Linked DNA regions of Homo sapiens. The protein of the gene in region 3 interacts with the protein of the main gene of each other region in a biochemical or structural test. Each region holds a gene or a part of one and is shown on either strand. Other genes may lie near its edges.

Region 1 (7,280 bases), about 25 Mb from region 3:
GGAAAAGCTGCACTCACCAAGGACCACAATGCCCCCGGCCTAAAGTACTGCCATTCAGAAAAGCAGGTTTTTCTTCCTCTCTTTCCTTTTCTCTGTCTGCTACTGACTTTAAGGCTTTTTCCCCCTTGAAATGTCCAGATTCCTGTGGTTCATCCCAAGGAAATTTTCACACAAAGCTTGGCCTTTGCCCTCAATATAGGTGTTTTAGGATGGTGACAAACCATGGCTGCTGCTTTCTGCCCAGCTCGCCAGTCCTCCCCAAAGAGTTGCGCATCAGCACCTGGGGATCTGGACCCTGCGGGTGAAGGGATGGGGAGGGACGTCCCTGGAGTCTCTTCTGTCTTTGTTCCTTCTTATTTTGGCATTCGATATCAGCAGCCTCTCCCCAAAGTACTTGAAGTCAGTTTTAGATGCTTTATTTTATTTTTCTAGTCAAAAACGTGTTTCCCCCAGTGTTTGAAAACTCGTCCGAATCTTTTCAGTATTTTCCATGAGTATTGTGGTACTTCTAGACTTGTTTAAGCCCAGAACTCATTCCTTCAAAACAGAGAGCCTTAATCTTTATGTTGGGACACAGACCACATATTTGGACGGCAGCCATGCATCCATCGCTGAAGGGCTGTGGACATGAATGTGTATTTCCCATGGTCTCCGCTGCCCACACCAACAGTGTGGCATCTCATAAGTTAACTGCTACCCTAAGGTAATCTAAGATTAAAATGTAAACATTTATTTTTGTTATGTAAGTTTATAAGATGTTTTATGTTCAATGCCTAATTTCTCAAAAGTGCCAGAAAAAAATGTATATTAGCTATTTTGATTTTATGTACAATGATTTATACTCTCCTTTTGAAAAGATACCATAAAGCACATAAGCTAGATCACTACAAGGAGCTGTTATCTTTTTTCTAATCAAGTGTTTAAAACACTGATGGTTTTTAAAGACTCACCTTTTTAAATGGTACTTGGAGCTCCTGATTCAAATTACCTAGACCCCCTAGAGAAATAAATGGAATATACATAAATAATCATTTTCAGTGGTTTATGGTGGGCAATATTGCAATATTTGAAATGGTAAAAATGGAAAGAAGAACAAAATATGATGAGAGGTGGCTGTGAATTATAAACCTCATAAAAGTGTCATAATTCCATTAAGGTTTAATTATATTTTTTCAGAAAACAGTGATGAATTCTGTAGTCCAGTGCTTGCCAATGCAAATTGCCTATTGGAATCTTCTTCCTATATTTTACAAACATCAGTGGCTGAAATAGCTCAGAGTAAGAGCTCAGCCTGGTTTGAATTTAATCATCTCTTTAGATCTTATAAGGCCAGCATTAGGAAACTTGTTCACTTTTCATTTTCAAAGGAGCCTAGTTGAAGTGCTATTATGAGTGTGGGCTATGGAAAGACAGCTTTTCCTACACTGATAAAGAAAAAAAATGAGGAAATTATTTCATCCCCTTGTGACATCTGTGACTTTTTGGATTTAATAATCTTGCTGTTTTTCCTCTTTATGACAAAGAATATAATTGGGAGGATGAAGTGTCTTAAAAATTGTAGAGACCAGCTCACTGGAATGTTTTTCCATCCCTGTATTCATGGCTTGACTTTGTGACTGCTCTACACTGCATGTCTGACATTGCAGAGTGAGCTATGTTGAGGTAAACTGGTTGGTTGTCATTATTTTGCAATCAGCCTGGTCTCTCCCATGAAGATGTCGTGTGCATAAGCACAATCATCACTGATTAGAAGATCACAGCAGAATACCCTTGGATTAGAGAGAAGTTCGTACCTTGCATTTCTCTGAATTCTAGTCTCTCATAAGCACTGCTTTGCTGGATGATTTTCACTGCTTTGTGTTAATGACTTTGAGCGATCTCTCACATGATGGGGTTCTTTAGTACATGGTAACAGCCATGTCATCTTACACACCTAGCATTGTGAATGCTGTAGTGACATCCTTTATAGGCACCTTACAGCTCAAAACTTTTGTTTCATTTCATGCCTTACTTATCAAAAAGGCAGGAAAGTAGGTATGATCTCTAAAGTAAAAAAAAAAAAAAAAAAAAAACTTTTTATAGAAAGCTCATAAATAATCATGTCATTTTGCAATTTTGTTACCAAAATTTCCCCCAAGAGTTTTCAAATATTAGTTCTGCAATGTGGCTATGAAATATGCACTGAAATATACCTTTTAATTTGAGAACCAGTGGTTAGAATAAGCTGTGATATAAAGTATTTTCAGTGTACTTTTAAAGGAACTATAAGGCCCTCCAGCATAAACGCTAAAAGAATAGATGGTAGCACAGGCCATGAGGGCTGGGGGAGAGAAGCAGAGTGAACCTTAGAAAGATGGCTCAGCTATTTGGAGCACTGGATATTTTACTGAAGTTATTTACTGAGGCACCATCACTGTTTTGACTGTACAGTATAGTTTTTCATAAATTTCATCACATTTACTTTGTTCAGAATCTGGGCTTGAATCTTTGAGTTGGACAAAAGCCTATGGTTTCTTTTAAAAAGTTTCATCTTGAGCTAATGCTACAGTTTAAATAAAATGTATGAAAGGTAGTTATCAAAAACAATTTGTATATTTAAAATTCTATTTTGACATCCATTTTTTACAGCGAATTATAGCAGGTTATGTGAAATTTAAAAATAAATTTTAGGAAATTTTTTTATCTTGTAAGTAAGAATTATAAATCTATCTCAGTTAAAAGTAGGATCTTTGTTTTTATTCAGATATTTTGAAAGTTTAGAAGCATTTTGTATGCTACTTTGGTATTTCTTAAGTATAGTCAGCAGGAAAGGGTAACCTGTTTTATGCAAAATTTTTTTAATTTGTCAAATGTTTTTAGTGTGTCTACTTTCTGAAATAGTCTCAATATCCTGTCTGTATCCTAGGCAGATAACTACACAAGAACAAAACGCTATATAGAAAAGAAAATATTTGAGGAAATCTTAAATTCCATAAGAAAGTAATTCTTGCAAGAATGTTGGCTACATATTTTTTTTTCTGTCCTGAATAAATTACATCATTAGGTCTGTTGAAGCTTTTGAAGCTACCACTATTCTTTCTGGGATAAAGGCTAATTACTGATTTATCTGCCCTCAAAATCCCAGAGTTAATTCTAATTGAGTACTAAATTAACAGTAAGTAGTTAACACAGAGAACTAAAATTTAACCGCATTATATCACTGTATATATTTCTCATGATTTTTGCTAATTAGAGCATTTACTTAACCAGTAATAAACTACACACACACACACACACACACACACGTATACGTGTGTGTGTGTATATACTTGGCTCTGACACAACTCTGGTGCTTAATTAGGATATGTTCTATTATGTATTTTGAATGTTTATCCTGCTAGTGTGATGAACTTTTGTTGGAAAAGCAGAATTAGAAGGAACAGTTTTTCAATCAGTTTCATTTGGTAATTACAGGAAAACCTTGAGTTGCTCTAATTTAATTTTTCCAATTAATACATTTAGACTTTAAATTGCATCCGTAATTCTCTTGGCTGAAAAACAGTGGTATTTTAAGACAGTTTTGTTATACATGTGACTTACTTTTGACTCAGCCTGAGAGGAGGAAATGTAAAGAGATAAGAGATTTGGCCCAAAGCAGCAAGAGACTAGTAACCTTGAGCCAGGACGAAGCCAAGACAACGTGACTCCCAAGTAGCAGGAGCAGAGGTCGGTCACCTGTGGCATTCTGTTTCATTCCCTTTTAAAATTATGAGACTTTATAGGCAGTGTAAAACATCAGCAGGCAGCGATGTGATAGGATGTGCGAAAAAGCTGGTCTGATACCATGGCTATAATTACAGAGCTTTAGTTCAATTAGGATTTTGTAAATGAGCAAATGACCTTTTTTTCCAGTGCCCCTTGTAATAGTTAATATGAGTCCATGCAATCTTGTGATGCCATTCTCCTGAAGGTGTTGATTTCTGGTACCCAGCCAGCTTAGCTTTGGCTGCTGGAAGCACAGTAGGTACTGATGATTACTTCCTGGAAATCTTGACAGGCTTATTGTACTGTGTAATGGGGAAAAGTTAAAGTATAATGTTTGGTGTTAATAAATGACTGATGTGAAAATAGGAACATGTGTCTTTAATATCAAATATGGCTTTATTTGCAGTGAAATCTAAATTCCTTATTCTACAGTAGTATTTTCTTGCCCTGTGTTGTATATTTTCCTAAATACATTTTTCCTGACAGTGGCTTTAGGCCAGTTGAACACACTTAGACTGAAAGTGTTTAACTTAAAGAGATCAGTCCAGAAACCATGATAAATTAGAATCTTTATCTGGAATTACCAAATTAAAATTTAAAATCATGGTCCAGAAGAGAACAAACATTCATGGTTTTTTTTATCCTACTGCTCATTTTTAGGTCTGTGTTTACATCTAGTCTCTACTATTTGTGAAGTATGTCATTATTTTTTTCAAGTTCTTCTTTGACTTAACTGAAAAATAATATTCCAAATTCTTAATGTAACATGAAAAGAGAAATACAATTTTTGCTTAAAAGACATTTTTTAAAAAGCGTTCAATTCAGTAATCATTTCTGTTAATACAGGAAGTTTTTTTGGCTTGCCAGTTATATACTGTGGGTATTTTTTAAAATGTGCTACCCTTGGGTTGTCTCATATCACCTTGCGTAATCATGTATTACAAAGGTTGATAATTGTCATTTCTCAGATGTCTGTATGTTACATTGGCAGCAGTAAAATGTTTTAATGTTGTTACCTTTTAAATAATTGTGTTGTATTAACATGCCTCATATTTTCTGGGGAAACTTGAAATATATCTAAACAAAAAAGGTCTGTTATAAATAGGAATTGGCATTTCATTGTTAATGTTTTTTCCTCATAAAAATAGTTACACCAAAAGTGACATATTGTCTATTACATGGGCCCAATCAGTATTAAAGTACTCCCCTTACTCAAAAATATTAAAAAATAATTCATGACACTTAGTAGCATTTTCATTGATTGTTTCAAAAGATCTTCATAATGGTCAAATTGTCCAATTCACAAAAGAGTGAGAAAGTTGTTTTCAGTACTGGGAATTTTTAAACCTTAGTTTTAAGACCAAAAATATCTCTTATTAGCTTGAACATTTTGTGATTACTTTTCCCTCCCCGGATCTAGTCCTTTTAAGGAGTAAGTCTAAAGAATGAGGCCATGAAGTCACTATTTCCTCCCACCTCAGTTTGTCTCCTGGTACTTAGCTGGCCTATCGCTTTGTGTGGCAATACCCCTGGGTCGCTTCCCCACTCAGCCTTCTGTATCTGCTGTTCACAGGACATGCCATTATGTCTTTCCAGTACGGATCACAGTGCTGCCATATCACAGACCCTGCCAGCCGGCACAGAACCATGCCTCGTCACAGCTCTGCCCAACTCACAGGCTGCCAAGATGAGGCCACAGGTCCACCTAGGGCGGCAGATGCTGGTGCTATTTGTCACGACTTTTGCCAAAACATGTACACTGTTGCTCACATCTTTCGTAAGAATGGTTGACACTAAGGGGCCATGGAAAAGCACTTTTAAAAAATTATGTGGTGGAATCAAACTCACAGAGGCAGAAATGTTAGTGCCGTGCTCTAACCAAGTAAGCTTAGTGTTCCCCACAGTGATCTGTATCTGGCCTGAGTCTCCTCAAGCAGCAACCCCCACTGTCCAGCATGTGGAAGGTAGATCCTTATGACAACACCAGACCCATAGTTACCAGGAAAGAAAAAGGAAGCTGAGTGTTGTGAAGGGGAAGAAATCCTTTTTATAAGAAGTAATCATTTTTAGGCCGGGTGCAGTGGCTCATGCCTGTAATCCCAGCACTTTGGGAGGCTGAGACAGGTGGATCACTTGAGGTCAGGAGTTTGAGACCTGCCTGGCCAACATGATGAAACCCTGTCTCTACTAAAAATGCAAAAAAAATTAGCCAGGCATGGTGGCATGTGCCTGTAGTCCCAACTACTCAGGAGGCTGAGGCAGGAGAATCACTTGAACCTGGGAGGCAGAGGTTGCAATGAGCTGAGATCGCAACACTGCACTCCAGCCTGGGCGACAGAGCAAGACTCCATCTCAAAAACAAAAACAAAAAAAAAACCTTTTTAAAGTAAATTGAGTGTAAAATGTTTTCACCATGAAGCCATTGCACCCTCTCCCCCAGGAAACAGTGCCTAAGGATGATGTCAAGTTACAGCCAGTTTGCTCTGATCCCCCAGGACCTAAGAAAACTGTGAGTGCTTCAGCATGCAAAGGTAGAGCTACCAGATAAGGAGAATAACTTGGCCATTTATAGCAAACTGCCTGACTTTGGAGTGAGAAACCAAGCACCTTCTAGGTCCTAGGATAGGTGAATTGGAGGTGCAGCTGCTGAAGTTCCCATTTTCTACATACTTCAGGAGCCAGGGTGTTTCATTTGGTTTTGTAAAACTTTGCTGTAAGTCATCACAGTTAATTCTTTGAATGGACATTTTAGAGTGTAACTTTTTTTCAAAATTAGCAGAACAGATATCTCTGCTCATTCTCTTTATACATTTAGTTTTTTAAAGTTCCCCTAGTATACCTGTTAGGCACTCTAAATAGGACACAGTTAAAGCTAAAAGAAGGACCAGTTGCTCCCTAGAGCCTACAGTTCAGAACTATCTTGTTGTCATGTCCTGGTTTGGTTTGGTTTGTTTTTAACTCAACAAGTTGGAAACCATGAGTTTAAAGCAAACTATTTCCTTTTCTTAAGCTTAAAGAGAATTTTTTTTTTAATCTTTAGCTCCTCATTTAGGTAGTGAAGGCTTCCCTGAAAGACAGCAGTGCCCTTCTCTGGAAGAAGAGGCTGGGACCAAAAGCCTGAGTCTATGGGTTGAGGATTTTGAGCATTCCTTTGACAAGCTTCTATGTATTTTTAATATAAGACTCATAAATGAACCTGATGTGGTGTTCATGACCCATCCCTTAAGCATGCTTGCTTTTTTTAACTTTACTTTTTGAGTATAGTACTTGTCTTGTTTTTCCTGGAGCCATGCTAGGATTTAATTCCTATGTGCCACTACCCGCCCATGTCCTGGAAGATGGCCATGCCTGCAGCAATGCTCATGTCTTGAGGAGAAGCAATGTGAAAAGCATCAGGAAAGCTGAACCTTACGTTCAAGTCAGCAAACATTTGTGAGCATTCTAGTATGCTTGCGACCTTGACACTTTTTAAAAATTATCTTTTTATTTGCTTCGAGTATCAACCGTATAGTTGACTCTAGTGGGGCGAAGGGAGC
Region 2 (7,712 bases), on a different chromosome or scaffold from region 3:
AAGAATTCCCTCTGAAGATAGTGGGAGAAATACAGAGATACACAAAGACAGCAGGATGCAATGAGAGAAGTGTATGTATATATGGGAAACATATATATTTGTATGTACATTTATCTATACACACCGCTGCCCCCACCCTACCCTATGTTGACGCCTCTCTGCCTGGGTCTTTCCTCCTCCTCCAGTGCCCACTGACATCCCAGAACCCCAGTACTAGCCCAGGCCACAGTCCTTACCCAGGAGCAGGAGCCAGGGGCCGAGGAGATGCATGGTGTCGTGTCTGGGTGCAAGCCTGAGCAGGGGAGAGTTTGTCTTTGAGCCATCTGGCCGCTTACTTCTTCCACGTGGCTTTTCTTGCTCACCCACTGAGCTCCGACCCTTCCCCTGGATCCGGGAGGACCGGGTCTGGTTGCATTATGGGGATGTGGCATTTGGGATGCTCACGGAGTTCTTTCTTTTTTTTTGAGACAGAGTCTTGCTCTGTCTCCCAGGCTAGAGTGCAGTGGTGTGATCTCCGCTCACTGCAACCTCTGCTTCCCAGGCTCAAGCGTTTCTCTGGCCTCAGCCCCCCAAGTAGCTGGGTAAAGGCAGGTGCCACCACGCCTGGCTGATTTTTGTATTTTCAGTAGAGATGGGGTTTCACCATGTTGGCCTGGCTGGTCTTGAACTCCTGATCTCAGGTGATCTGCCAGCCTTGGCCTCCCAAAGTGCTGGCACTACAGGTGTGAGCCACCACTCCTGGCCGGGAGTTTTTTCTGAGTGTGCTGCACCTCTCCTTCAAACTGAGAGCCCTGCGGGGGCAGCCTCTCTCTCTTCCCAGAACTCCTTCCTTTCTTCCTTCCTTCCTCCCTTGCTTGCTTTTTCCCATCCATCCATTCATCCATCTCTAATTTTATAAACTTCCTGCCTGGCTCACAGGCTTTGAGTGGCACCAGACCACTGAGTGCTTTGAATGCCAGGCCCCGGGTAACGTGGAGCTCTCTCTGGTGCTACTCATCAAGGATTATACTCAGGGACAGACATGGTCAAAACTTGGTTTGAAAGACCAGGTAAAAAGGAATTCTAAAACCAGTAACAAAGTATGGGTGAGCCAGGCGCAGTGGCTCACACCTGTAATCCCAATACTTTGGGATGCCAAGGCAGGCAGATCACTTGAGGTCAGGAGTTCAAGACCAGCCTGGCCAACATGGCAAAACCCCATCTTTACTCAAAATGCAAAAAATTAGCCAGGCGTGGTGGCGTACACCTGTAATCCCAGATACTCATGAGGCTGAGGCAGGAGAATTGCTTGAACCCGGGAAGTAGAAGTTGGAATGAGCCGAGATCATGCAACTGCACTCCAGCCTGGGCGACAGGGCAAGACCCTGTCTCAAAAAGATAAAAAATAAACTAAAAATGTACAGAGCTGGTCAAACAAAACCTATCTGTGGGTTAGGTTCTGCAACTGTTGCCCATCTTTCTTTCTTTCTCTGCAGTGAGCTTGTCCTCTACCATCCCTGACCTCTGCATAGAGTTATATTTACATAGAGTTAAATTTAAGTCCCAATTTACATGATCATGGCCCTCCGTGCTGGCCCCCGGGGACCCTGAAGGATGTGACAGCAGAGTGTGTCTCCGGTCTCAGCACCAACCCAAGCCCCTCCCACTCACCTGCCAACATTTCACACGCATCAATGTTCCTCTCTCTGTCTGTTTATCTCCTCGGGCCACATGGCTCATGCCAAAGGCTGCTGGGTATCTGTTCATGGGTGTGCGGAAAGCTAAGCTGCTTGCCGACAGCAGGAAGGGGGTCTGGCCTGGGCTAAGCATGAATTTGGGGTGCAGGGTCTGAAGCTGAGGCAGATTCCCCAGGCAGAGCTGACATCAGCCCCGCAGGTACTCATCATGTCACATGCAAAAAACATCTTCAAGGTCACATACACTTGAGAAAGGCAGGGTAAAAGAGTTAAGTAAGATTCTTTTTTTTTCTTTTGAGACAGAGTCTCATTCTTCTGTCGCCCAGGCTGAAGTGCAGTGGTGTGATCTCAGTTCACTGCATCCTCTGCCTCCAGGGTTCAAGTGATTCTCCTGCCTCAGCCTCCTGAGTAGCTGGGACTATAGGCATGTGCCACCACACCCGTCTGATTTGTTTGTTTGTTTGTTTGTTTTAGTAGAGATGGGGTTTCACCATGTTGGCCAGGCTGGTTTCAAACTCCTGACCTCAGGTGATCCCCCCAACTTGGCCTCCCAAAGTGCTGAGATGACAGGCGTGAGCCACCGCACCTGGCTTAAGTAAGATTCTTTACTGCAGGACTTTAAAAACCTTTCAGTAAACTCTATCTACACCATTAATCTCTAGACATGGGGATTAGAGTATAGTATAATACATTGTCCATACTTCTTTGGCCATGGGATCTATTTTACATGTTCCATAAAAAACTTAGCAGGGTTGCAGAGCCAGAGTTCTTTGAAATCCCCTTAAGGTTACCTAAGGGGTAACAAGGGCTGTGGCAAGGACTAGACTCCGTTCCCTGCAGCCAACACTTGCCTCCAGGAGCCGGGCCATTGTCCCTCCTCTGCCAGCACCCTCCAGCCACAACCTGCTCTGGGACGGGCTGGAGCATCCCAGCATGAGTGGGAGATGGGCGCCTCCAGAGCAGGACTGTGTGCTGCCTCAAGGAGCTCCAGGAGTCTCTGGAGCACAGGAGTAGGGCCCCAGGCCCGGGAATTGGAAGGCTGAGGGTGGGGTGGAGGTTAGGGACAGCAGTTATTATGCACAGAGGCTCAGGACAGGGCCATGCTGTCCAGACCTCCTCAGTCCAGGCCTGTTGAGGGCCTTGCAGAACCTTGGGGCTGACCTCCCTGGCTCCTTCTTCCCTCCTGGGCATCCAATAACCTACCCTACTCTCAGAAGACTCAGCAGGCCTGGCAAGGAGGATGCTCAAGACAGGGGTCTGTCTACAACCTGTTGTAACACCGGTAAGAGAGAGCCAGGGAGGTCCCCACTGTGTTCCCAGCTCTGGGAGGTATGCCTGGCCCATAACTGCTGTTCCGTAATAACTTGCTTGTTGAATGCAAAATAAAAGCAAAATGATTTTTACCTGTTTCCGCGTGTCTTCCCTCTTCAGGGACCCTGGCAGCATCTGAGAGCAAAAGGAGAAGTACAGTAAAGTCTCTGGTGACAGAGGTTTCCCCTCCATGGCCACACCCCCTGCTTCTCTATGGCTCTGAGGGGGACCAAGCAGCACCGTGATCTGGGGAGTGGGGAAAAGAGACGATTGAGGGGGATGCGGGCTCGGAGTCAGATTGGAAGACTCGAATACGTATGGGCAGTTCTTCCTTTCCGTGTATGGGTTTGCAATATCAGATCAGTTTCAGAATGGGCTCCTCCACAACTCCCCCTCTACCCAGCTCTCAGGAAATGCGAATGACTCAAGCCAAGCAGGAGAACTGCAGCCCGCTGAAAAAGGCACAGGCCTACCTGAAAGTATTTGTAGTTTAGTGACACCATCCAGTTATTACCATTTCCACTCTTTTCATCATAGGCATAAATGGTGGGGAATCTGACCACCTACACTGAAGCCCCCAAGGGTTGAGGGAGGAGCACATAGATATTGAGGAGGAAAAAGATATCTCGGCCGGGTGCGGTGGCTCATGCCTGGAATCCCAACACTTTGGGAGGCTGAGGCGGGTGGATCACTTGAGGTCAGGAATTCGAGACCAGCCTGGCGAACATGGTGAAATTCCGTCTCTACTAAAAATACAAAAAATTAGCTAAGTGTTTTGGCAGGCGCCTGTAGTCCCAGCTACTCAGGGGGCTGAGGCAGGAGAATCACTTGAGCCCAGGAGGCGGAGGCTGCAGTGAGAAGAGATCACACCACTGCAGTCCAGCCTGGGTGACAGAGTGAGACTCTGTCTCAAAAAAAAAAAAAGAAAGAAAGAAAGAAAGAAAGAAAAAGAAAAGATATCTTGTAGGACTGGGCATGGTGGCTCATGCCTGTAATCCTAGCGCTTTGGGTGGCCAAGGCGGGTGGATTGCCTGAGCTCAGGAGTTCAAGACCAGCTTGGGCAACATGGTAAAACCCCATCTCTACTAAAAAAAAAAAAAAAAAAAATCCAAAAATTAGCTGGGTGTGGTGGCGGGCGCCTGTGGTCCCAGCTACTCAGGAGGCTAAGGCAGGAGAATCACTTAAGCCCGAGAGGCTGAGGTTGCAGTGAGCAGATCGCGCTGTGGCACTCCAGCCTGGGTGACAGAGCCAGATCCTGTCTCAAAAAAACAAAAAAGATATCTTGTAGGAAGTGTTATTGAATGGAGAGTCTTTAGGCTGAAACCTCATCACCTTTATAATCCTGTAGCCAGCGAGTGTCTCAGGAGCAGAACAGACAGCATTGGAAGCCATGCACATCCTACAGATGAAGAGGGATGCGCTGAGAGGTCTTCACTCCAGCACCACTGCCCTCTATGGGCAGCTGGCCATAGGGAGGGAAACAGAGAGAGGGAAGAACACCTTCTTCCAAAAGCACCGATAGGGCTGGGTGTGGTGACTTATGCCTGTAATACGCTTTGGGAGAGCAAGGCAAGAGGATTGCTTAAGGCCAGAAGTTTGAGACCAACCTGAACAACACAGCAAAACTCTGTGGGGCTAGTCAACAAAAGCAAAAAATGAAAAGTAGCTGGGCATGGTGGCCCATGCCTGTGGTCCAAACTACTTGGGAGGCTGAGGCAGGAGGATCGCTTGAGCCTGGGAGTTCAAGGCTTCAGTCAGCCATGATAGCACCACTGCACTCCAGCCCAGGCAACAAAGTAAGACCTTGTCTCAGTAAATAATAAATAAATAAAATGAACAAAAAGCAGTGATGTTCTGGAAAGATGGAGTAGATGTATTTATTTATTCTGCCAAGTATAACTGAAAACCTTGAACGTGACAAGACAAGCATAAGAAGACTGAAAGATGGAGAGAAGCAGACTGGTTAGGAACCTCGGGACTTAAGGAATGGTGGTGAATTCCCTGGGATTTCTCTTTGCCTCATATATCTCAGGCTGAATACTGGAGAAGCCAACAACTGAAAATGCCAAGGGGCACAAACAAGAAAAAGTCCCAACAGAACAAGTTCTAGCAAAACTATGCTTTTCTAGCCAAAGAACGAGGAAAGGGGCATCCTAGAAAGACAGAGCTCTTTTAGTCCATACCTGCTCCGCTCCATCCAAGTTCCATCATCACCCTTGTCAGCAAAGGCCGGATGGAAAACCTAGACATTCACCTTCACCAGGCTGTAACAAAGAACCCTAGGCCACTCCCATACTCAGCCAGAGTGATGCTAGAGTTGGAGCTGGGACATTCCTCCCCACTGGGATCACCCTCCCCCGATGTGGTGTTGGTGGAAACCATGTGGGCAGCCTGGACATCCACTGCCACCCCAATGCAGAAATGAGGCATTCCACCCGGCCCCATTGGAGTAGTGTCAAAGGGGGCCTGGTGGAGAGTTGGGACTTTCGCCACCACTCAGTGGTAACAAGCACCCCCCTCTCTCTGCCACACACAGTGTCAGTGAAAGCCACATAGGGAGCAGTAATGAAGCATCCCTCCCACTCCCAGCCAGGGAGTTGTCATGGATTCCTAGTGGGGAACCTGAACTTCTACCCTTACCAAACAATAACATGGAGGCCTCATCTCTCCCAACCCCCCAGGTTCAGGAAAGGCTGGATGGAGAACCTGGACTTTTATCCCTGTCTGGAAGCAATCAGGCAGTGCCCTACTTTATTTCGCTGGAGCAGTATAAAGGGAAGCCCACTAAAACAAAATATTTAAAGAAGATCCAGAATCTTATAACACAGTGCCCAGAATATCCTGACTTCAATGGCAAATCACTTGTCATACTAGGAATCAGGCATTCTCAAACTGAATAACAAAAGATAATTAACAGACACAAACATCAAGACGACACAGATGTTAGAATTATCTGACAAAGATTTTGGAGCAGCCATCATAAAAGTGTTTCACTGAGAAATTATAAATGTGCTTGAAACAAATAAAATAATAAAAAGTATCAGCAAAGAAATAGAAAATATAAAGAAGAACCAAATGGAAACTTTAGAACTAAAAAATACAACTAAAAAATACAAGAGCTGAAATAAAAACCATAATGGATGGGCTCAATAGCAGAATGGAGAGTATAGAAGAAAGAAGCAGTGAAACAAAACGTATAACAATAGAAATTACCCATTCTGAACAATGGAAAGAAAATAGATGAAAGAAAATGGAACAAAGCCTCAAGGACATGAGTAACTATAATAAAAGAAGATCTAACATTTTGTCATTGAAGTCCCAGAAGGGGAGGAAAAGGAGGGTGGGCCTTAAAAAAATATTCCAAGAAGTAATGGCTGCAAATTATCTTCATTTGACAACACACACGCACAACATATGTCTACAGATTCAAGAAGCTGAGCGCATCACAAACAGGATAAACCCAAAGAAATTCATGCCAAGACACATCATAGTCAAACTTCTAAAAACAAGAGGCAGAGAAAATTCTCGAAAGCAACCACATAAAAATGCAAAAAATTAGCCAGTTGGGTGGTGCGTGCCTGTAGTCCCAGCTACTCAGGAGGCCAAGGCAGGAGGATCACTTGAACCTGGGAGGCGGAGGTTGCAGTGAGCTGAGATCCTGCCACTGCACTCCAGCCTGGGCAACAGAGCGAAACTCTGTCTTAATTAAAAAGTAAAATAAAATAAAAACAAAAAACCTCTGGAAGATAACATAGGAGAAAATCTGTGAGACTTAGAGCTTGATGAAGTGTTCTTAGACATGACACCAAAGGCATGATCCCTAAAAAAATCAATCCAACTTCATCAAAATTAATTTTTTTTTGCTCTGTAAAAGACCTAGTTAAGAGAATGAAAAGACAAATTACAGACTAAGAGAAAATATTTGCAAACCACATATCTGACAAAGGACTCCTATCTAGAACAAATATATAAAGAACTCTCAAATTCAACATAGAAACACTACATAAAAAAATCAAATCATCCAATTAGAAGACTGGCAAAAGATATAAAGAGAAATTTCACCCAAGGGGATATATGGATAGAAAATAATTATCTAAAAAGATATTCAACATCACTAGCCTTTAGACAGGTTAAGACCATGATGAGATATCACTACTAACATCTATAAGAACAGCTAAAATAAAAGATAGTATCAAATACTGGAAAGATGTATGGAAACTAAATCATTTATATATTGCTAGTGTGAATATAAAATTGTCCAGCCACTCTGGAAAAAAGTCTCAAAACAGTTCCTCCAAAGATTAAGCATAGAATTACCATACACTCCTGCATCTCCACTCTTACATATATAACCAAGAGAAATAAGAACATGTTCACCCAGAAACTTGAACACAAATGTTTACAGCAGCATTATTCATGAAAGCCAAAAAGCAGAAACAACCCACATGTCCATGAAGAGATGAATGAATAAAGAAAATATGGGAGACCTAAACAATAAAATATTATTTGATAATAAAAAGGAATGAAGTACTGATAGATACTACAACATGGATGAACTTTTTTTCGAGACCGAGTTTCACTTGTTGCCCAGGCTGGAGTGCAGTGGTGCCATCTCGGCTCACTGCAACCTCTGCCTCCCAGGTTCAAGCGATTCTCCTGCCTCAACCTTCTGAGTGACTGGGATTACAGGCATCCGCCACCACGCCCAGCTAATTATTCATATTG
Region 3 (7,280 bases):
ACACTCACAACAAACTGCTGAGGTTTAAACATGAGGACTCTGAGGCTAGCAAGGCCAGCACCTTGCCAGCAGCAGCCCACAGTTAGGAAGGGACAGACCTGGGATTTCAGCCCCCACATGAAATTAATTCGACACCCTGTGCTCTACCGCCCTGCCCTGCCTTACTTTTGACCATTCAGAGTGATTTCTGGGCACTCATTTGGGTGCCAGGGATCTCCTGAGCAAGTCGCCCACCCACAACCCTAGCAAAGTCTTTGATCGGCATTCTGGTTTGTGAACAATCCAGAGAGAACAGAGCACAATAAACTCCTCTAGGATAGAAACCTCCCACTTATTTATGTTGGTATTCCCCCAAACCACCCACTATCATGACATACAGCACTCGATAAATATACTTGGGCTGGGTGTGGTGGCTCACGCCTGTAATCCCAGCACAGCACTTTGGGAGGCTGAGGCAGGTGGATCCCTTGAGCTTAGGAGTTTGACACCAGGCTGGCCAACATGGCCAAACCCCATCTCTACAAAAAATAAGCCAGGCATAGTGGCACACACCTGTAGTCCCAGCTACTTGGAGGCTGAAGTGGGAAGATGGCTTGAGCCCAGGAGGTCAAGGGTGCAGTGAGCTATGACTGCACCACTGTACTCCTGCCTGGGGTTACAGCCTGGTCTCAAACTCCTGAGCTCAAATTATCCTCCTGCCTTGGCCTCCCAAAAAACAAAAAAATTACGCAGGCCTGGTGGCGGGGCCTGTAATCCTAGCTACCCAGTACTGAGGTGAGAGGATGGCTTGGGCCTGGGAGGTGGAGGTTGCAGTGAGCCGAGATAGCACCACTGCACTTCAGCCTGGGCGACAGAGTGAGACCCCATCTCAAAACATACAAATAAATAAAGAAAGAAATACACGTGAGGGAAAATTTTTGTTACATACATTGGGCATCTATCAAATTTGAAATAATACAAAAAGCCAGTGTGGTTCTGAAAGACAAAAATCAACTGCTATGGTGCCGCATTTCATTATACCAACAACCATAAACTCCATATTAAAATTTTGCTTAAAACCAGGGATTCGGCCAGGCGTGGTGGCCAAATCCCTGGTGAGTGAGATCGTACCACTGCACTCCAGCCTGGATGACAGAGTGAGACTCTGTCTCAAAAACAAAACAAAACAAAAAACCAAGGATTGTGCCCATTACTGTATCTGTCACTCTCCAGGTCACTTAGGGGAGGTGTCAAGTACCTACTTGCAGATGACGATTACAAGCTGAAGCCTATTGCTGTCACAGAAAACAGAAATAAATGTTACTTTCTAGCTTCAAATTAATCTCTAGAGAAGTAGCCTTGAGTCATTCAACTCTCCACCTACTCAAAGCATTAAGTCAGTGTTCAACGTGTCTTCGCTCTTGGCTATGTCATAAATGCCATATTGTAAAAGAGTGTAGGCAAGAAGTTGCCTGTGATGGACAAAAAGATTAGCTTCATACTAAAAGGCTCCAGTGATTCCCCTTCGTTAATGCCATGAAGTCCAACATTTAGTATTAGGGCCAAGCACCCTCCAAGCCTGCCTGTGGAGCCTCCCACTGCCTCTCTGGAACAAGCTCTGGTAATGTGGAATGACCCCTGCATAGTCAGGCTGTCCTTCCTCAGGAAAGCCCCTTCTTCCAGGGTGTGTGGCCCACTCCCTTCAGGATTTCCACCAACATGGCAGGTGTGTACCCCAACTCCTAACACTGTGCGGGACTCCCAGTAGCTACCCAGGAAAAGTTTGCTAAACTGAATACTAAACATAGCAGTGGAAGGTTCTTTAAGAAAATGTTCTATTTACAACATTTACAGCGCATCAGCTCTCCTGAGACAGGACTCTTACAATTATATCCATCAAGCGTCCTTCAAGTCACTCTAGCTCCAAAGTTCCCTGTCTGCTTCCACCTGCCTTCTGCAGTCCCACTGGCTTCATTCCATTGCTCCTTATATCCTGCCGTTTTAAAATCATATAAGGAGCCAGGCGCAATGACTTATGCCTGTAATCCCCGGATTTCGGGAGGCTGAGGCAGCCGGATAACTTGAGGCCAGAAGTTCGAGACCAGCCTGGCCAACACAGCAAAGCCCTGTCTGTACTAAAAATACAAAAAGTAGCTGGGCATGGTGGTGTGTGCCTGTAATTCCAGCTACTCAGGAGGCTGAAGCACAGGAATCACTTGAACCCGGGAGGTGGAGGTTGCAGTGAGCCGAGATCACACCATCACAGTCCAGCCTGGGTGACAGAGCAAGACTCTGTCTCAGGAAAAAAAAAATATATATATATGTGTGTGTGTGTGTGTGTGTGTGTGTGTATATATATATATATATATTTATATTTTTATATGGGATTTATGTATATATTTATATGTGGGATTTATATATATATTTATGTATATATGGGATGCTCATTCTTTTAAATATAAAGACGTACAGAAGTAAAAACAGCACTCAACTGTCACCCAGAAATAATCACTATTAAGATCTTAGTATAAAAATTGTTTGAAATGCAGTTTATAGATGATGTGTCCATATATGAATATTTTATTTCAGAAATGGTATCATGTCATCTACTAGTTTGTGTTCAGCTCTTTTGCTATTGTTTGTTTGTTTGAGACAAATTGCACAGGCTGATTTCGAGCTCCTGAGCTCAAGCAATCCTCCTGCCTCATGCTCCCAGAGTGCTGGGATTACAGGCAAGGGCCACTGCGCCTGGCCGCCTGGCCGTGTTCAGCTTTTGAAAAAAAATTTTTCATATTAGTAACTGTAATTGAATGTTTTATCTTTTAAGATATTTACAAAGTATCCCATTATATGAATGTGACTTAATTTGTGTTTGTTTAATAAACCTCCCTATTGGACTGCCCATCTCTGTACGTTGGAAGGGGGGATGAAAATATGTTGATTAATGGATACAAATATACTGTTTGATAGAAGAAATAAGACCTGGTAGGGTGACTAGAGTTCACCATTAACTATTGTGCATTTCAAAACAGCTAGAAGAATTCAAAAGATTCAGCATTTAAAAAGAAAACAAATATTTAAGGTGATGGCTATCGCAAATACTGATTTAATCTTTACAAATTATATGATGTATTAAATTATCACATGTGCCCTGAAACTATGTATATCTATTATGCATCAGAACAAACAAACTCTGATGGAGCTGGCCAATCCTACCTCAGAAAAGCTGCTCCAGGCCACATTCCCCTGCAAGTTAAGGGGAGGGGCTGTTCCACCAGATTGTATTTTCCTTTTTCTATTTTGTTTTGCCTACAGATATGTGTATTTGAGCACAAGGTAAAATGTTTCTTGCTATGGGTTGTGGTCAAATAAGTTTGACAGGCTGGGCGCGTGGCTCATGCCTGTAATCCCAGCACTTTGGGAGGCCGAGGCAGGCAGATCACCTGAGGTCAGGTGTTCGAGACCAGGCTGGCCAACATGATGAAACCCTGTCTCTACTAAAAATACAAAAATTAGCCGGGCATGGTGGTGCATTGGTGCATGCCTGTAATCCCAGCTACTCGGGAGGCTGAGGCAGCAGAATCGCTTGAACCTGGGAGGAGGGGTTGCAGTGAGTGGAGATTGCACCATTGTACTACAGCCTGGGCGACAGAGCGAGACTCCATCTCAAAAAAAAAAAAAAAAAGATGTTTGACAGCCACTGTTCTATCCCAAGAATTTAACAAGGAATTTAACAATTTTTAAAATAGTCCTGAATTATTATAGTTAGTATTTAAAAATTATTATGTAGCCTGAACATTAAAAGATTTCGAAACGTCTACCCAAGAGTTTCATAACACTTTCCATGACGGGGAATTTCAAAATGTACATTTTTCCGTTGCTGAAAAAGTCAGGCATGGCCAGGGTGGGCTTCGCAAAGCAGGCTCTGCCCTTAAGACTCTAGACTGCTCCTCTCTCCCACCCCGCCCCACCCCTCACTTAAGGGCAAACCGAAAATGCAGAGGGCAGCAGAGGGTAGAAAGAACCCCGAGGAAAACGCAGCATTGGGTGGTAAGGAAGGTGGGGCTGCAGGCAAATGACCCAGGGGCCTGGGGTGGAGGAAGTATCACTTCCTTGCCTGCCTCCTCTGGGGCCTTTTCTCTCCAGCATCGGGCTACAGTTCTGCTCTCCGTGACACAGCTTCCCCCTGGAAAGCAGAAGTGGTCCTCCCTCTCCAGAGAGCCTCTCTGAGATAAGCTTCTCCATTCCCCTCACCTCCGTGGGGGTTAACATTTACAGGAAGAGTGGGGGCACCCAGAGACCCAAACACCAAGAAGACGTCATTGCTTCAGTGGGAGGCAGAATGAATACACACCCATCTCTCCAGTCTCACTGTACCAGCGCCCAAGGGTAGGCCCAAAGACCACACGAAGACCTCCCCACCAGATGTTTTACCAATGGAGGGAGGAAAGCGGGGACTGGAAAGAAGCTTCCAACCAGTATGGTCTGGTGTCAATAAAGAGGAGTGAGCAAGATTTCAGATGCTCACAGAAAGGTGTGGGCAGGCAGGCAATATGTAACTTTGCCTGAAGCATGGACTGTAGAAAGGAAATGAGACCAACTAAAAAACTATCTGAGCTGTGAAGACTTCTTCCCAGTGTTCTACAACCCAAAAGCAGAGCCTCAACCATCAAGAAACAGCCACTTAACTGGATTATTTAAATGTATCCCGATTCATGCAGTTCTATAGGATGTCATTTAAGTAGCAGCATTCTGAACACTGAGCATTTACAATAATGAGGTTAACTGACAATCTCTTCCCATACACGGTCAGCTCATGCCAATTCCTGGTTGAAGAAGCCTTTGTAAGATGATAGGGAATGAAGTGGGGAGAGCAGAAGAAGGGGTACTGGAAGCCTGAGGGTTAATAAAGCTCAGTGAAAGAGCAATGCCATGGAAGAGTTCTATACCAAGGAAAACTGTATCCTGAGTGTAAGTACAGCTTTTAAGAAATAGCTCTGTGGCAAATAAGGAATGCTGCCAGCTAATTCAGTAATGAGAGAAAATGAAGTACAGAACAGGATGAAGGGGATAAACAACAAAGGCTACTACAGGCCCTGCTCTTGTCAGCATGGATGAGGCTTTTTAATACATCATCCCAAGTATTTAAACTTGCTCTTCTAAATTACAAGACAGGGCCAGGCACGGTGGCTCACACCTGTAATCCCAGCATTTTGGGAGGCCGAGGCGGGCTCACCTAAGGTCAGGAGTTCAAGACCACCCTGGCCAACATGGTGAAACCCATCTCTACTAAAAATACAAAAATTAGCCAGGCATGGTGGCGGGCGCCTGTAATCACAGCTACTAGGGAGGCTGAGGCAGGAGAATCACTTGAATCCAGGAGATGGAGGTGCAGTGAACTGGGATCACGCCAAAGCACTCCAGCCTGGGTGACAAGAGCGAACTCTGTCTCTTCAGTGGGAGGCAGAATAAAAAATAAAGAGAGCCCTTCCAACTAACTTAAGCCAAATATACCCCAGAAAGGCCAGGCGCAGTGGCTCACACCTGTAATCCCAGCATTTTGTGAGGACGAGACGGGCAGATCACTTGGGGTCAGGAGTTCAAGACCAGCCTGGCCAACATGATGAAACCCCATTTCTACAGGAAATACAAAAATTAGCTGGGTGTGGTGGCACATGCTTGTAAGTAATCCCAACTACTCAGAAGGCTGAGGCAGGGAGGATTGCTTGAACCCAGGAGGCGGAGATTGCCGTGAGCTGAGATTGCACCACTGCACTCCAGGCTGGGCGACAGAGTGAGCCTTCATCTCAGAAAAGAAGAACAAACAAAACAACAACAACAAAAATCTCAAAAGGTCCAAGTCTTTAAACTGACAAAATTTCTAATCCCTCCATTGGCAGATTTCCATACCATTCTCTACACATGGGTATCTCCCCCGAAAGGGAACTTATTCAAAATAAATTTTAGAAATGATAATGGAGTGAACTTAAAGTTTCACAATTTAAGTATCAGGAAACCAGACAGCTGTAAGAAATCTTTCAGTATTTCTGACTGGAAAAAAAAAACCCAACAACTTCCTCTTCCATGTTCTTCTCTTCATTATCAGCCTTAAAAGATGGGAGGCAATGTATATCTATACTGTTGGCCTAGAACAGTGCCTTGCACACAGCAGGTGCTCAAAATGATCAGGTGTTTTAATGTGCGTCCTATGAGCCCTGTCTCCTTAATTTATATTTTCACTTAAATGATGCTCTCACTGATAAAACAACCAGGAGGTTGGCAAAGTTTACAGGGAGACACTCCCAGCACAGGTCGGGGAAAGTCCTTTTGCAAAGTATTACTCAGGTACTTCTGTATTAACCATTAAGCAACTGATTGCCCCCAAGACAGTCACTAGGGCTGCTCGGACAGCAGCCAGTATAGGTGTCATCTTAGCAGTTACTGGAGACCACCCTTTCCCACCCCCAAGCAAAAAGCAGTGCTAAAAAGCACAGAAATTCATTTCTAGAAGACAGCTTGAAGTGCCCAGCTTGATGGTGCATCTGCTATGTCCTGAGCAGTTAGCCACTTAGTTCAGACAATTACCAAGTGATAAAAGAAAATTAACTCATGATTTCACTTTTAAAATGTTTGTTAAATGACCTATTTATTTGCTTTTAAGCACAGATGGTCTGCAACTTAATGATTTTTCAACTTTACGATGGTGCAAAAGCATTAGGCATTCAATAAAAACTGTACTTCAAGTACCCATACAACCATTTCATTTTTCACTTTTAATACAGTATTCAATAAATTACATGAGCTATTCAACACTTTATTATCAAATGGGCTTTGTGTCAGATGATTTTGTCCAACAGTAGGCTAATGTGAGTGTTTCGACCATGTTTAAGGTAGGTTAGGCTAATCTATAATGTTTAGTAGGTTAAGTGTATTAAATGCATCTTCTACTTTCAGTATTTTCAACTTACGATTGGGTTTATTGGGACACAGCCTCATCATAAGTTGAGAGGCATTTGTAATTGAGCACACACTACAAGTCCAAAGGTGGACAAGTAGAAAGAGCCAAAAAACATACCTACTACTCCTAATGGTACCGCTTAACCAAGCCTGTGACCTTAGACAACCCCCTGAATCTTTTTCTGTATCTGTCCCTCTCCATCCTATAGGAGCCACAAGAGGTTCAAATGAAATTAGAGTTCAGGAAGACTTCAGAGCCCTGAACAAATGAAAGGTGCTAACACCTTCACCATCATCACTAGGAAGAGCCAGTAAAGGTCTGAGGCTATCTCTGCTATCAATGT

The links. The genes of interacting proteins can lie anywhere in the genome.
Region 1: the proteins of LYN (region 3) and PAG1 form a complex in vitro, tested with the Homo sapiens proteins (one study listed by BioGRID).
Region 2: of the proteins of LYN (region 3) and CD22, one has a biochemical effect on the other in vitro, tested with the Homo sapiens proteins (one study listed by BioGRID).

What each region holds. Positions count from the first base shown.
Region 1 is NC_000008.11:80,968,945-80,976,224, reverse strand, and holds part of PAG1 (phosphoprotein associated with glycosphingolipid-enriched microdomains 1), read left to right. Parts: 3' UTR 1-7,280. UniProt on the Homo sapiens protein: Negatively regulates TCR (T-cell antigen receptor)-mediated signaling in T-cells and FCER1 (high affinity immunoglobulin epsilon receptor)-mediated signaling in mast cells.
Region 2 is NC_000019.10:35,324,599-35,332,310, reverse strand, and holds the start of CD22 (B-cell receptor CD22 isoform 1 precursor), read right to left. Parts: upstream 3,125-7,712; 5' UTR 3,081-3,124; intron 293-3,080; 5' UTR 271-292; coding exon 237-270; intron 1-236. UniProt on the Homo sapiens protein: Most highly expressed siglec (sialic acid-binding immunoglobulin-like lectin) on B-cells that plays a role in various aspects of B-cell biology including differentiation, antigen presentation, and trafficking to bone marrow.
Region 3 is NC_000008.11:55,882,626-55,889,905, reverse strand, and holds part of LYN (tyrosine-protein kinase Lyn), read right to left. Parts: intron 1-7,280. UniProt on the Homo sapiens protein: Non-receptor tyrosine-protein kinase that transmits signals from cell surface receptors and plays an important role in the regulation of innate and adaptive immune responses, hematopoiesis, responses to growth factors and cytokines, integrin signaling, but also responses to DNA damage and genotoxic agents.